Homo sapiens: one gene and its partners. The protein of the gene in region 2 purifies or fractionates together with the protein of the main gene of each other region. This does not show direct contact. Each region holds a gene or a part of one and is shown on either strand. Other genes may lie near its edges.

Evidence for each region. Proteins that work in one complex are often made in the same cells at the same time.
Region 1: the proteins of TWIST2 (region 2) and NACC2 purify together in Homo sapiens (affinity purification with mass spectrometry; one large-scale study listed by BioGRID and IntAct). This does not show direct contact.
Region 3: the proteins of TWIST2 (region 2) and MEF2C purify together in Homo sapiens (affinity purification with western blotting, with the first as the bait; one study listed by BioGRID). This does not show direct contact.
Region 4: the proteins of TWIST2 (region 2) and ETS2 purify together in Homo sapiens (affinity purification with western blotting; one study listed by BioGRID and IntAct). This does not show direct contact.

Annotation. Positions count from the first base shown.
Region 1 is NC_000009.12:136,011,514-136,015,296, reverse strand, and holds part of NACC2 (nucleus accumbens-associated protein 2), read left to right. Parts: intron 1-530; exon of another isoform or gene 531-784; intron 785-1,327; coding exon 1,328-1,433; intron 1,434-2,000; coding exon 2,001-2,098; intron 2,099-3,272; coding exon 3,273-3,781; 3' UTR 3,782-3,783.
Region 2 is NC_000002.12:238,846,582-238,850,796, reverse strand, and holds the start of TWIST2 (twist-related protein 2), read right to left. Parts: upstream 2,713-4,215; 5' UTR 2,582-2,712; coding exon 2,099-2,581; 3' UTR 2,064-2,098; exon of another isoform or gene 700-2,063; intron 1-699. UniProt on the Homo sapiens protein: Binds to the E-box consensus sequence 5'-CANNTG-3' as a heterodimer and inhibits transcriptional activation by MYOD1, MYOG, MEF2A and MEF2C. Also represses expression of pro-inflammatory cytokines such as TNFA and IL1B.
Region 3 is NC_000005.10:88,716,341-88,719,191, forward strand, and holds the end of MEF2C (myocyte-specific enhancer factor 2C), read right to left. Parts: 3' UTR 777-2,851; downstream 1-776. UniProt on the Homo sapiens protein: Transcription activator which binds specifically to the MEF2 element present in the regulatory regions of many muscle-specific genes. Controls cardiac morphogenesis and myogenesis, and is also involved in vascular development.
Region 4 is NC_000021.9:38,819,422-38,823,204, reverse strand, and holds part of ETS2 (protein C-ets-2), read right to left. Parts: intron 3,703-3,783; coding exon 3,439-3,702; intron 1,620-3,438; coding exon 1,501-1,619; intron 532-1,500; coding exon 316-531; 3' UTR 1-315. UniProt on the Homo sapiens protein: Transcription factor activating transcription. Binds specifically the DNA GGAA/T core motif (Ets-binding site or EBS) in gene promoters and stimulates transcription.

The sequences.
Region 1 (3,783 bases), on a different chromosome or scaffold from region 2:
GGTGGGCCCCTGGGGTTGGGCTCTGGGGCGCAGGTGCCCACGCGGGCCCTGGTGCTTCACATAGGTGTGGTCCCAGGAAGATGCTCTCGGTCATCCCAGCCTCCAGCAGCTGTGGCCTCTGTTTGGGGTGTGGGGCTGATGGGATTGGAGACGTGCTTCAGTTTATGAGCTCCTCAGGAGAGTTCCTCCAGCCCAGACCCTGGCAGGAAGGGCCTGTGGGAGTGGTGGGGCAGGAGACGGGCCATGGCAGGAAGAGGTCATGGGCACTCACAGGCTCCTGGAAGCAGGCGCACCTGGACATCGTGTCCTTCAGGACATGACATCTCATGGTCATTGAGACTGGCTGCCCCCAGAAAGCATTCCCTCCCCATTGTTCCCAGAGGGTTCAGTCCTGCTGCTTGTCCATGCCCTCGCTCACCCAGACCCTGGTGGGACACCTGGGGTGTGGTCAAGTTTCCGAGGGTAAACAGCACAGCGTGGACCTCTCTGGCCACGCCTCTGCCCTAGCTGGTTTTCCTCTTCACACATACCCAGAGGAGGTCAGCACTGGGCCCTGCAAAGCTCCAGCCATACCCTCCAGCCAGGGGATTCCGTCTCCCTCATCGTTGCCTGAGGGCTCTCTGGTATCTGGGACGGAGCAGAAAGGCAAAGACATGAGTGTTTCCCAAACCCAGGGCCACAGCCAGCCCTTCAGAGTGTGTTCCCTAGGCCAGGTGCAGTGCCCCTCCTCCTGTAATCCCAGCACTTTGGGAGGCCGAAGTGGGAAGATTGCTTGAGGCCAGGTGTTCAAGACCAGTCTGGGCAACATAGGGAGACTTCATCAAAATTAACTGGGCATGGTGGTGGCGCCTGTGGTCCCGGCTACTCAGGGGGCTGAGGTGGGAGGATCACTGGAGCCCGGGAGGTCGAGGCTACAGTGAGCCATGATGGCACCACTGCTCTCCAGCCTGGGCAACAGAGCAAGACCCCGTCTCTAAACAACAACAAAGTGTGTTCTTGGGGAGGGAGCTGAGGCCGGGGACCGCAGCATGGCCGGGAGAGCTTGGAGTTTGGGGCTCGTTGGGGAGGGTGGGGGGCGCTGTGGCTTTCCCCACCCCCTGCTTAGTTCCATGTGTGATTTGGGACCTGCTGGGGCTGGCCTTGGCCATGGCCTCTCCTGGTGACCAGCAGGTGGGACCTCAAATTGCTCCTCCCCAAAAAAAGTCCTAGAAGCTTCCAGCTCCTCCTCCCCCTCCACCTCCCCCCCTCCCCCTCACCCATCTGTGCGCCTCTTCGGACCCTATGGCCCGGGAAGGCCACGAGCCCTTTTTCTGTTTGGTGGCTGCAGGCTCTGGGGTCTACATCACACGCGGCCAGCTGATGAACTGCCACCTGTGTGCAGGGGTGAAGCATAAGGTCTTGCTGCGGAGGCTCCTGGCCACCTTCTTTGACAGGTAGGTCGGGGCAGGAGTGCTGGAGGGCACAATGGAGCTGCGGAGGGTTCTGGCTCCTTTAGCTATGAGCTGTCTGATCGTCCAGGGTTGTGGCATTGAAAGCCCTCTCGCATTCCTGACTTCAGCCGTGGCCGGTCGGCCCCAGGACGGTGGAGAGGCTCCCAGGGAGGGAGGGAGGGGCTGTCTTTCGTGGCCTTTCTCAAACGGGCTTGTGGATGCAACCCCCACAACAGAAAAATGAAGAGCCACACTTATTCTGTTGTGCTGATGGGCCAACAGAACCCTTCCCGAGGACACAGCGGCTTCCTCAGACGTCCCCGGAGTCCCTGAGGACAAGGCTCAGGTCACCTTGCAGCCCCATCACCCGGTCATCTTCTCAGCCCAGACGCTTTTCCTTTGTCCTGTCCCTTAGAGGGTGGCTGGGCCGGCTCCTGCCACTGGGACACACGCAGACCAGCCAAGGGTGAGGCCAAGTGGCCTCCCAGCAGGGCATTCGTGCGGGCGGGTCGCCTCCAGGTACCCTCCCCATCATCCTCACCCTGCCTGCCTTTCCGGTCCCTCCACCAGGAACACGCTGGCCAACAGCTGCGGGACTGGCATCCGCTCGTCCACCAGCGACCCCAGCCGGAAGCCGCTGGACAGCCGGGTCCTGAACGCTGTGAAATGTAAGAGCCTGGGGGTCTCTCGGGTGGGTGGGGCCGGGGCTGGGTTCAGATCCCAGCCTGAGGAGGACTGGGTGGGCCGCGGGGGTGCTCCCGGCCACCTGCAGCTTCCGTCCCTGGGGGCCGAGCATGGTCTGATTGAGGGGAAGATGAGGAGAAAAGAGCAGCTCTCAGAAGCCAGGTCTCGAGGTGTTAACGTTCTTGGTAGGTTTCCAAGTGTGATGAATTCAGCTGCGAAACTATTTTAATATGTGAAATAGATCTAATTTTCCTTTTTGAACAAAACCCCTTATTTACATTTTGCGGTTATTTTGAGCCTTTGCCATCTGTTCGGCCGGCTTCTGCCTCCCGCTCTTGGGCGTGTGGGGGCGGAGCCCGGTCCATCTCCAGGGCAGACCGCCGCCCCCGGCCCGCGCCCCAGATGTGGAAGATGCTGACTGCTGCCGGCTCGCACCAGGTGGCCAAGAGCACAGCCTCCTGTGGCCCTCGGCCCAAGAAGCACTATCTTGTTTTCTTCCTAAAAAAAAGAAAAAAAAAAAAAAAAAAAAACCTTGTGAGGCAAATTCTGTTTTAGAGCAAAAAGGGGCCTTTGCAGCCAGGAATTACAGTCCCCAAGTGTGGGGTGGCAGCCGAGGCTCTGGGAAGATTCTGGGAGGGACCGAGGTGGACGTGGCCCCTGGGACCTGCCTCTGGGTTTGATGCCGTTGGGAGGAATGACCCGGCCTTGGCCTGGGCTCCTGCCAGAGAAAGGAGGCGAGTGTTGCTGAAGTGATGGCTTCTGTCACTCCCCTCCTCCAGGCTGGGACTGGGACGGGGAGGGGTGTGTTATTCCCGAAAGGGGGACCCTCTGACCAGTTCCCGTTAGCCGTTGGGGCTACGGAAGCCCGGAGAGATTAAAAACAGGCCTGAGCCTCACAGCTGGCGGACGGCCAAGGCTGCTGGGCCTGACCAGGCCAGAGACTGTTCCAGAGGAATGGGGTGGGGAGGCCTCCCAGGCCGAGCAGTGAGAAACGTGACCTCTGGTCTTCTGGCTGAGGCCAGGAGAGCCCCAGGTGGTCACATGGGCCCCAGGAGCGGCCGGGGAGGCTCATCCAGGGCATCATGGTTCTGTGGCCTTGGGGAGGGGCGGGCCTCCCGGCAGGCAGGTGGCTGAGCTCACGCCGCCCCGTCCTCACAGTGTACTGTCAGAACTTCGCCCCCAGCTTCAAGGAGAGCGAGATGAACGTGATCGCCGCGGACATGTGCACCAACGCCCGCCGCGTTCGCAAGCGCTGGCTGCCCAAGATCAAGTCCATGCTGCCGGAGGGCGTGGAGATGTACCGCACGGTCATGGGCTCCGCCGCCGCCAGCGTGCCCCTCGACCCCGAGTTCCCGCCTGCCGCGGCACAGGTGTTCGAGCAACGCATCTACGCCGAGCGGCGGGGCGACGCCGCCACCATCGTGGCTCTGAGAACTGACGCCGTGAATGTTGACCTGAGTGCCGCCGCCAACCCCGCCTTCGACGCCGGCGAGGAGGTGGACGGGGCTGGCTCGGTCATCCAGGAGGTGGCCGCCCCCGAGCCGCTGCCCGCCGATGGCCAGAGCCCCCCACAGCCCTTTGAGCAGGGCGGGGGCGGCCCCAGCAGGCCCCAGACGCCGGCGGCCGCGGCCCGGAGGCCGGAGGGCACCTATGCAGGGACCTTGTAAGC
Region 2 (4,215 bases):
AATAAATAGGCTCCTTATAGATCATCAGCTCTCCCACTAACTGTGTAATTATCTATTATATTTTCAAGGGCTTTTTTCCAAACAAGCTCTTGGCACTGTTTTTATTTATTTATTACATGTATTGCATTTTATTTTTCTATAATCTTTAATGGTTACCTATGGCTGATTCTCTAAGTTTTGAGGAGTGCGATTATTTTTAAATGAATTTTAAATGTTCCTACTAAATTCTAGCAGCATCATATCTACTGGTATTTGTTTTCAGTAATTTTCTGGAGGGCAGTCTTAACGATAATTAAAGTGACATTTTCCTTAAACACGGCTCAATGTGTGTGTTTTTAAAAAGATGACATTCCTCATCTGTTTGTTCTTATTTCAGATGTGCTATAAACCATGAATGAGGTAAAGCATAAATGGAAGTAACTAATGGAAGCTCATTATTTAGGCAGCAAAAACCAGAATTAATGTATTACCCCACTGTAGCGTTTAGTACTCAGCCAATCCAAACTTTCCTAGAGAAATATGTGATTGAGACACTTTCCATCTGTTTTTGACAAAGACAGGAGAAGATTCCCACAAGTTATTTTCTGCTGAAAATTATTTTTTAAAAACTATACAATTATCATTATCTCAGGAGGCTCTGCAGCTACAGAATTTTCAGTGACACCAAAATAAAAGCTAAAAAAATGAAATAAAACCCACCTGTGCTGGATCAGCTTTTCGTGGCCTCAGCAACAACATTCGCAGATATTATAGAACCACATAAAAAAAGAAATAGATATGTTTGGGAGAATAGGCGGCCGGGTGCTCTTGATTAATCTAAATTCCTTCTGTGTGAAGTAGAGTCTTTTATAAAAACATCGCAAGATGTGCGAGGAACTAAAACATACTAAGGGGGAAGGATTTTTAACTCGGCCCCAGCAAAAAGAACTCTGTGCCCCTCCATGGCCCTGGATGGCGGATGAGAGAGGGGCTCGCCTGCTCACAGAGCCTAAGGACGGCGCCTCCGTGGCTCGAGCTTGTCTAAAGGGACTTGGAAGGTGTCTGGTGAAAAGGACCCGGTGCAGGACGCCCTAATCGCTCTTCCAGAGGAAACCAGAACTTGGAGTGCTCCTGGCAGCTGTGTCCCCCGAGCCTTCTCCTCGCGCAGGGCCCGGCGCGCACAGCCTCCCTGTCCCCCAGACCCGTTTCCCAGCCTGGACCCCTCGCCCATCCCTGCGGGGCTGGATGGGCGGGGCCCCTCCCGGGTACTCCAGGGTCAAGGTTGGGACTCAGGGCTCCCAGTTCCTAGGTCAGCTCCACCTGCCTGCGGGCGCCCTGGGGCTCCGCGCGGCTGCGTCGGACCCGCCTGCCTCAGCGCTCCAGGCTCTGCGCTCTCGGCCCAGGGCCCTTCTCGGGCACACCCGGCCCTGTGGCTGCTCTGGCCCCGAAGCGCAGGGCAGTTTCCTCCCGTCCTCCCCAGGCAAACCCTGGAGCCGCAGGCCCGCACCTCTACGCCCACTGGGCAGGCCAGGGCGCCGACGGCCGGGGACCCCAGGCGCGAGCAGCTGGGTAGATCTGAGTGTCCGCCCGACGGACGCGCTCTACCCTTGCCCAGGAAGAAAGCGAAGCCATTCGCCCGGCAACACCCGGCTCGGGCAGCTTCGCGGGCGGCCTGCGCTGCGGCGGACGCAAAGGGCAGCTGGTCCTCATATCCCAGTCCCCAGCCGGCCCCAGGAGGTTTTTCTGATGCTCGCTCCTTCCACCGCCAACCACGGACACCCACACACCACCGAGAATGAAAACTGCGACCATCTGTCTAAGTATCTTCAGAACCCGCCGGGGGAGTCACCGGTCCGCCGGTTCCCAACTGACACCCTCGCGTGGAAGTCTGCACTCAGGGGTGTCCCTGGGACTGTGAGCGTCCCGCCCGCCCGCCTTCCTTGCTAAGAGGAAAAGCGCACGGCATCCAAGCCCCCGCGGCCCGCGGGGCCTCGCCGAGGAGACACGAGCAGGCCCCAATGCCCCTGCGCCCCTGCCGCCCGCCCCCCGCAGCGGAGGGCGCCCGTCGCGCGCGCAGCACCTACCCTGGCGCGCCGGTCCGGAGGTGGGTGGCGCGGCGCTAGTGGGAGGCGGACATGGACCACGCGCCCTCCATGCGCCACACGGAGAAGGCGTAGCTGAGGCGCTCGTGGGCCACGTAGCTGCAGCTGGTCATCTTATTGTCCATCTCGTCGCTCTGCAGGACCTGGTAGAGGAAGTCTATGTACCTGGCGGCCAGCTTGAGCGTCTGGATCTTGCTCAGCTTGTCAGAGGGCAGCGTGGGGATGATCTTGCGCAGCGCCGCGAAGGCCTCGTTGAGCGACTGGGTGCGCTGGCGCTCGCGCACGTTGGCCAGGATGCGCTGGCTCTGCAGCTCCTCGAAGGACTGCGCGCTGGGGCTGCCCTTCTTGCCGCGCTTGCCCGGGGTCGGGCTGCCATCTTCGCTCGACTTCTTGCTGTAGCGCCGCTTCCGGCCGAAGCGCTTGGGCTGCCTCTCGAGCTCCTCCTCGCTGGTGCCCAGGCTGTCCACGGGGGACACGGGCGAGCTGGAGCCCTCCTCCATGGCGCCCGCCCGGCGCGCGTGGGGCTGGGGGCGCCGGGGCGCCGAGCGCGCGCCGCTGGCCAAGCCCGCGGTCGCCGAGCACACGCTCTCGGAGTTGCTGGAAAGGCTCTGATTTCAAGGCCGGCTTGTGCAAAACCGAGGTCTCCGGGAGAGGAAGTTATTCTAACTTTTTTGGAAACTCTAGCTGGGCTGGGTTGCTAAATAGTTGTCAGGAGCTAGGGCGGCGCGCTGATTGGCCGCGGTGGCCGGGGGCAGGACAAGTTCTGGGGCCTTCGCCGGCCGCCCCCGCCCCCCGGCGCGGCACTTTCAGTTTTGCCTCCCCCTTCGGCCCCGGCGCGGAGGGCATCCCGGGGGCCGGGTCCTCGCCCGCCGCCCGCGCCCCCACCCCGAACGCAGGGCACTCTCAGGCCGCCCCGAGCCCTAGGCCCGGCCAAGCCTGGCTTTGTCTACGCCTCAACGTAGAGATCGGCCCCCACTGGGCTTTGGGGGGTTCTCTCTCTGGGCGTGAGGGGCTAGAGAGGCGAGTCCAGTCCCAGATGCGCTCCCAGAAGATGAGGACGCAGCCAGGAGCCTCCTCGACCTGTGTGGGTCTTGGCCGCCCCCGGGCGCACAGCTAGTCTGCACCGCGGCCCGCAAGCTTAGGCCTGGGGTCTGGGGAGCTGCGCGGGCAGGGGTCTCGGTGTCCGGACCGCCAGTGTAAGGACAGTCGGGGCCCCCTGGAGACGCCCGTGCCCAAGGACATGCCGCCAAGATCCGTGGAGATGCCACCCTTCGGCCAGCGTGCGTGTCGGGGACCATTTCTTACCCTGGCTTGCTGGGGAGCCCCGGCCCCGACGCCCTTCCCGAACCTTCCTTCTAACAGCTTTAAAACAACGCCACAGCGAGCCTCTGCGGGAGCGCCCGGTACCCGCCGCGCCCGCCTGCCTGGCCCTACCCGGGTTGCTGGGCGCGGGTTGGGGCGCCTGCCGGCCCGCCTTGTACGGCCCCAGCCTCTGCGCTCCGCCTTCGCTTCGCGGGTCAGCAGAGGACGGAGGGCGCTCCGGGAGCTGCACGAGGCTGCCCCGGGCCCAGCCTCCGCTGCGCTGGCAGCCCGCGGGCAGCTCCGAGCAGGAGGCTCAGGGTGGCTGGAGTGTGGGGCCCGGCCTCGGTGAGCGACACCACGGACCCCGGCCCCGGGCCATCTGGACGGCGAGCGCGAGCGCGTTTGAAGTGGTTGGGGGGCTCTTTGTTCGCCAGGCCGCTCTGGCTCTGGGCCTGGAGGTGGTTTTTACGGCTTTGATGCCTTTGAACCTATTCCCAGGTGACCCGGGCTCAATTAGGCCCGGGCCTGAGCCGGGCTGTCAGGCAAGCCGCGTGATCAAGGGCGGGCTGGGCCCTTTTATTGAAGTTGAACCCGAGACCGGGGAGTGCTCGGCCTCCGCTGCTCCTCCGGCCGGCCAGGCGGGCCGCGAGGTGGGGCCCGCGGGCCACGACCACCGCGTTGGGAAACCCGAGGACGGCAAAGAGCGGGCCCTTCGCGCCCCTGTCCGAGGGCCCTGGCTCCGGCCGTTCTAGGGGACGTTTTACCAACAATCCGTCCAGGAAGGCAGAACGCCTAGGAGCGGGCCCTCGCATGCATGTGAGTCGGTAGCAGC
Region 3 (2,851 bases), on a different chromosome or scaffold from region 2:
ATGAAAATTCAGATGCTCTGTTCTGAATAGGGTTCCCTTGCCAAATTCAGTATCTCTATTTAATCCAGACTTTCAAACATAATTGAAAGAAAAAAAAAACACCCACACATCCAAATCAGGCCAGCATTAACTGAATCCTGAGTTTAAGTCCTTATTTACAACTTTCTCATATTCTAACTCAACATACTGAAAACTGAAGTGACTACCTTCCTCACAAAGCAGTGACCTCTCAATTTCCAGTTTGGACATTACTAGGATCCTAATCATTTAAGCCTAAAACTGTAAACTTTAACAATTCCTTATCTATCACCACTCCTACCATTAATCTAACCATTTACTGAATTCTGACAATTTTCTCTCTCCTAAATCTTTCAATTACTTGCTTAAACCTAACTCTTTTAAATTTGCGATTATATAATCAGAGGCAAACTAACTCTTCCAGTCTTGTCTCACTGCTCCCCTACACACGGCTACACTTTACGTAAATAGAAAGGCCCACAATTCCTGTAAGTTTGTCTCTTGCTTTCCCATCTCTGTACCTTTGTATCTACTATTTCTTCCCTGTGAAATGCCCACATCCAGGGATGGTGTCATGATTCCAGGGCCCAGTGCAGAATGAAAATGTGGAAGTCCTTGTTGAAAAAGTGAAATAAAAGGTTCTCTCTGTTAAAGGTACTAAAATATAAAACAGTTCACTTTTTCCTGTGTATCTCTTCTGTTCAGGCACATGCTCTATTGTCCTACAGGACTTTGCTTACAACATTCAAACTCAAATATAAAATTATTAAGGATAATTTTATTATCAGGATATTATCAGGATAATGATAGCAGAACACTAAACGAAACACAAGCTAGGGCCATATGTGACTGCAGGGGTCACATGCCCACAAACAGCTTTGAACTCATCCCCTTCTGGGCCTTTCTCAATCCTGCCCACCTTCAAAATCAAGTGAAAGGCTTCTGCTGGGTGGATGAGGAAGTGTCCATGCTCTGAGCCTCTGGTCTGCTCTGCCCCAGGATGGCCAAAGTGGCTCCCTCATAGCACTTTGTAGACTTCCCTGAGAATGCCTTTTATCTCCTATTAGTTTATAAGTTTCCTAAGAGAAAGGGCTACAACTTCATTCATCCTGGAATCACCACATGAGTTACATATAATAATTGCTTAATACATGTTTGCTGAAAATGAATACAAGAGAACAAAGCAGAAAGCACTGCTATTTTGAAGCCACATGCAACATTTCCTCGAACTGCATTCTTTTTGGAGCAGATATCACTACTAATGCAAAAGTCCAAGTTCTCCAGCTGGCTAACTGGTGGTGTCTTGTTTTCCTTTTCAGTTTTTAAATTAATCTTTCTATCAATCTTTTTAAGGACATTCCCCTTTAGAGATTATTATTGAATGTTAATAATGGATATATTTGATAGTCTCTAAAATGTATGAATTCACTAATTTATTCAGATTTATAAGCCTATGTTTTCAACTTTTAGAAATTACTTCGAAGAAGAAAAAAGGAACTCTTTTGGAAACACTTTCTACAGATTTTAGTTAAAAAATAACTTATGGTACTGCTTTTCACAGTGGCTTTTGAAAAATTCTGTACATTTAAACAGGTTATCAAAGATCTTCATGGAACTTCTTTGATAAAGAAGTTGAACCATTCAATAAGAACCTTAGACTTCCACCACTGGCTGAATTCTGTAATACCCTAAGAACCGTCATCCAATTCACACCCCTCCCACACAGACACACATATCCATCTTTTCATATAATATTTTGAGTTGAAAACTGAGAAAGCTCATTTGTGCTTGTGGCATAAGCTGCTTTTTAAAAAACACAATAAAATTGAATAAATTTAAACAGCAAAACATTAATTTAAAAAAATGCACCACGGACACTGCATCACTAAGAAAGCCAGTAACTTTACTGAATTGTCTGCAAAATACAAATTATACCTTATTTCCAGCAGGAGAAACTTTTGAAAATTTCCCACTTTTATTCACTACAGACAGCTGAATTAAGTCCCTTGAGATACACAGATGTGGTTTAACTTAGTTATAACATCTTGTCATCTAGTGGCGACAAAGTCCAGCTTATGCCGCTGTGAGCCTCTATTTGAATATTTGTTGCAAATGCTTGTATGCCCTCATTTACAAGCGATTTTAATTACTCTCATTTAATGGAAACAAGTCCCCAGGAAAAGAAAAAGAAGAAAAATGATACAGCAAACCATCTGAAGCAATCCAAGTCCTATGCCTACAGTGACCCAGGTCTACTTTGCTCGAAGAGAACACTGGTACTGCATTCAAACCACAACAGAATCCGTCACTTAACTGACCTCTCTGAATTAAACTGAGGTATGAATCAATTTGAGGTATGAACAGGGAAGGCAAAATGCAATACCAGATTATGAAAATAACCAAAATGGAAAAATTTGATGTAGAAGATATGTGGCTTGGATTGCTCCACATCTTTGGTTAAAACATATTAAGAAAAGCCTTTAATTACATCTGTAGTCTGAAGCATTCTAACAGACACCAGTATTCCAGCAATCTTCAAAAGATCTGTAGTGGCAGGAAATTAACGCCATAAAAGTGACGACATCACGGCAGATGGCACAAATGAGAACAGATGAAGTATGCCATGCTTAGGCAACAGCCTTTATTGAGGGTTCAAGTGGCTTCTTCTTCTTTAAAAAAAATGTTTTTTAAAGAAAGAACTACAAAGCGTTTACTCTCTGGAGAAACAAACAACAAAATAAAGAGGGCAAAAAATGCTATCTCTAAGTTAAAAGATGGGTATGTAAGAAAAACAAATCCATAAAAGTGTGTGAGGGCAGACATTCTTTTAAAA
Region 4 (3,783 bases), on a different chromosome or scaffold from region 2:
CTCCTTTGAGAATCTCAAACAGCCAGAACCATCCCGTCCCACGGACTGCCAGGCGCCAGGACGGCTTCCTGGTGCCTCTTTCTCGACCATTTTCACTTAAAAGCACTGTGAGTAGAATTAGCTGTGCCGTTGCTGCCACAAGGGAGGCAGCCTGGTCAAGAGGCGTGGTTTGGGATGCAATAAGGCCACTGCTTCTTGGCCACTTTCCTGGACATTTTCAATCCTGCCTTTCCTGGGTCCTCGGAGCAGCTGGTCAGGATGGGCTTCCCACTCAGTCCACGAGCCTGGGGCCGGCTCAGGGTGGTCCCGGCGACCTCAGTCCTCCGTGTCGGGCTGGACGCCCAGGATGGCGTGCAGTTCCTCGGGCGTGAACCCCAGCAAGTTCTGGAGGTCGCACACGAAGCGGTACACGTAGCGCTTCCCCGACGTCTTGTGGATGATGTTCTTGTCGTAATAGTAGCGTAAGCCCCGGCTCAGCTTCTCGTAGTTCATCTTGGGCTTATTTTTCCTCTTTCCCCACCGGCGGGCCACCTTTGGTGAACATGGATGGAAAAGAGTTAAACTCAATTTGTCAATGAAGAAAAAGTGAATGACATTCCTCCCTGATTATGATTCTGAGGCATGTTCACTCTAGAGAGAACTTGACACCTACACAAGGTCCGCAGGAGGACCTTTTGAGTACCTCTGAGTACCTTTGAGTACCTATGGTAGGGGCACTGTGTCCCCAAGGGGCAGAACCACTGGGGAATGAGGTCCCTGCTCCCTGGCCCCAGCTCAGTGAAACCTCCTGGGAGCCAAGGGTTCAGAGCCAGGAGGGTCCTGAGACCAGGGAAAGGTGGTGTCACCCACCCTCCAGGCTGGATATTCCAACTACTGAAGTTAACAGGTGCCGAGTGGGATTCTGAGCTGTGTGATATACTCATTCCTCAATGCTTGTCTCCCAAGGGAACTGGAGGCGGGGTGGGAATGGTGACAGATTACGCTCCCCAGTGCCAGAGACCAAGGGCTTCTCTCTAACGCTTTTCTGGCGGGGTTGGTATCCCACCTGCCCTTGGCCTTCTCCTTTAGACAGGGCTCCTGGTTCTAACTCTGCAGGGCTGGGGTCAACACTGCTGGGCTCAGCTAAGGAGTGGACAGAAGGCTGGCTCGGGGCCACATGAGGCTTGTTCCCCCGATGGACAAGGGCAGCCTTCCTAAGGCATTTTCAGATGGTCAGCAGAGAACCTCAGTTTGCAGCTTGGGCCTCTTGATCAGACAACTGATCAAGACAGTGAAATCTGTGCAACGCCCTTGTATGAAGCATACCCAGAAAACACTGTACACGTTTATCAACAAAGCAATGACTCCACTTCCATTTTCCCAACAGCCAAGGATGCCTCACGTGGAAAGATTCTCAGCAGTACTGGTGAACCCTTTTTTGTGCCCAAAGAACTGAGTTTTTGAATGCAAGCAGGAAATCAGGTTTTCAAGCCCAGAGATTTCCCAGGGCTCTGGCCATACCTCATCGGGGTCGGCGAGCTTAAACTCCCATCCGTCTCCAGTCCAGCTGATGAATGACTGGCAGGATTTGTCTGATAGCAGCTCCAGGAGAAACTGCCACAGCTGAATAGGTCCACTTCCTGCGGGGAGAGGGAGGGAGACGGATCATACCCTTTCACAGATGTAAAATACAGCAAGTCTTTAACCATCCTAATTGTACATGCTGATTTAGGAATGCAGACCCAACTCTCTGAATGGGGTTCCGATGTTACACTCAGGGTGGCACTCAAGGTGTTGGTGACAGTACTAAGTGCTTTAACGGGATGGGGCGGGGCACCAAATGTGAGTTCCTGCTCCACACTGCCTACTCCTAGAAAATAAGGTCACTAGGCGAGACACTCTTCCCCTTGATTGCTAGGTTTGTTCTTTCTGGAAGAAAGTTTAGGGCCACCAACTCTTGGCATTAAAATTCCCCATCTGGTTTAATTGTTCCTTATGTAAAAACCTTCAAGGTTTTTTTCTAGAAACACCCAGTGGGGCAGAGATGGGGGTGGCTGAGGGGGTGTTTCATCACAGAATGAGGCGTGTCATACGTGGGATCCCATGCCACCTTCCTGCCAAATGACCATGTGTAAATTGCTTAATGTGAGCCCGGTTTACTCAATAGCCACGCGGGGTCACACCCGTTGCCTCACAGCCTCTGTCTGGTGAAGCATGCTTTGCCAAGAGCTTCTCGTCCACCTGTCCTCGATTGACATTTAGAACTACCACCTTGCAAAGCAGGTGTCAGTGTGGTTCTGTTCTAAAGAGGAGGGATAAGATGCGGCTCAGAGGCCAGGTGCCTTGTCCTGGATCACACGCCCATCACAGCAAACAGGAGAAGAGCCTAGATCTTCCGACCCTAAGCCCAACCTCTTTCTACCAAATAGCTCTTCCTCAGAAACGCAATGGCCGTTATCAATAAAGCTTTGCTGTAAAGCACGGGACAGGCATTCTAGAACCAGAGCTGTGTGAGCACCGATAGCTGTCTGCCTGTGAGCCAATTTCCCCATCTGTAAAATGGCCTCATACCACCCCCATGCCAGGCTGTCCTACAGACTGTATGCCTACTTAACTACAGAGTTGGCAGTCAATAAACAGAAACTTATGTTACTATTAAAATGAACCACACTAACGTTATGGCTGTTTATTCTTCTCAGGCCCTAAACTCCCAATAATGAAACCGATAATGGCTTTCACACACTCTTTCCGTGTATTTTAATACGTTTACGTGGCTGATTGTTCTTAGATGACAGAAAAAGAATGAATGCCTCAGTATCCTTATTTTAAACTTATCAGATTTTTTTAAGTTAGGTAATTTCAATCCACAGTGGCTCCATATGGTTAAAAAAACAAAAACAAAAACGCATTTAAGGATACACGAAGCAGTGAAAACAAAGCCCCAGTATTTTCGCTAAAGTACTGGAAATACCTGTTTCTAAAAACAGCTTTATATTTGTCCACTGCCTAGAATAGCTCTCACCCAAACCTCAAAAATAAGAGCAGATAGATTTTAGAAGCAAGAAAAGGTAAACAGTGCCCATATTATTTGAGACTGGCTCTGCTGCCCCTCCCTAAGCCAGTTTACATTCTTTGAGATTCTTGGAGTGGGTGAGTCAGGGCTGAAGACTGCACAGGCCATGTCCCCTGCTCCAACTATTCCTCAGAACGTCCCAGGTGGAGGGAGTGGCCTGTCAATTTTCACTCATTCCATGGAGCTCTGTGTACATGAAAATTCCTCCAAGTGTGGCTTTTGTCGAATTCAGAGATACAGCAAGCCACGCATAAAACATGGAGTGTAGAGCACTGGTGTACCTAGCTTAGAAACACCCTCGGTGAATGTGGTACTGTGGCTCGAAAGGAAGCAAGGGACAGGACCCAGGAGACTGGGCGGCCAGGCTCTCGGAGTTCCACACACACCTGTGAAGCCGGCCAGCACAGCTGCAGGTATAACTGGTTTGCCTTGCTCCACTGGGTCACTCCTCTCTTGGATGTAATCCTTGAAAGACATGGTTGGCTTATTGAGGCAGAGAGACTGGCTGCAGTCATCTTCGAAGCTCTCGAAGGAAGGAACCCGTTGCACATCCAGCAAGGACGACTGGCTGTTCCAGGACTGGAGGAGGGAGTCTGAGCTCTCGAAGCTGTCCGCACCGTTCTCAGGGGAGTCGTGGTCTTTGGGAGTCCCTGGCAAAGACAACCAAACACATACTTTGATTCCTCCAGGACACAGTTGGTCTTGGGCACGACCATAGCATCACCAACCAC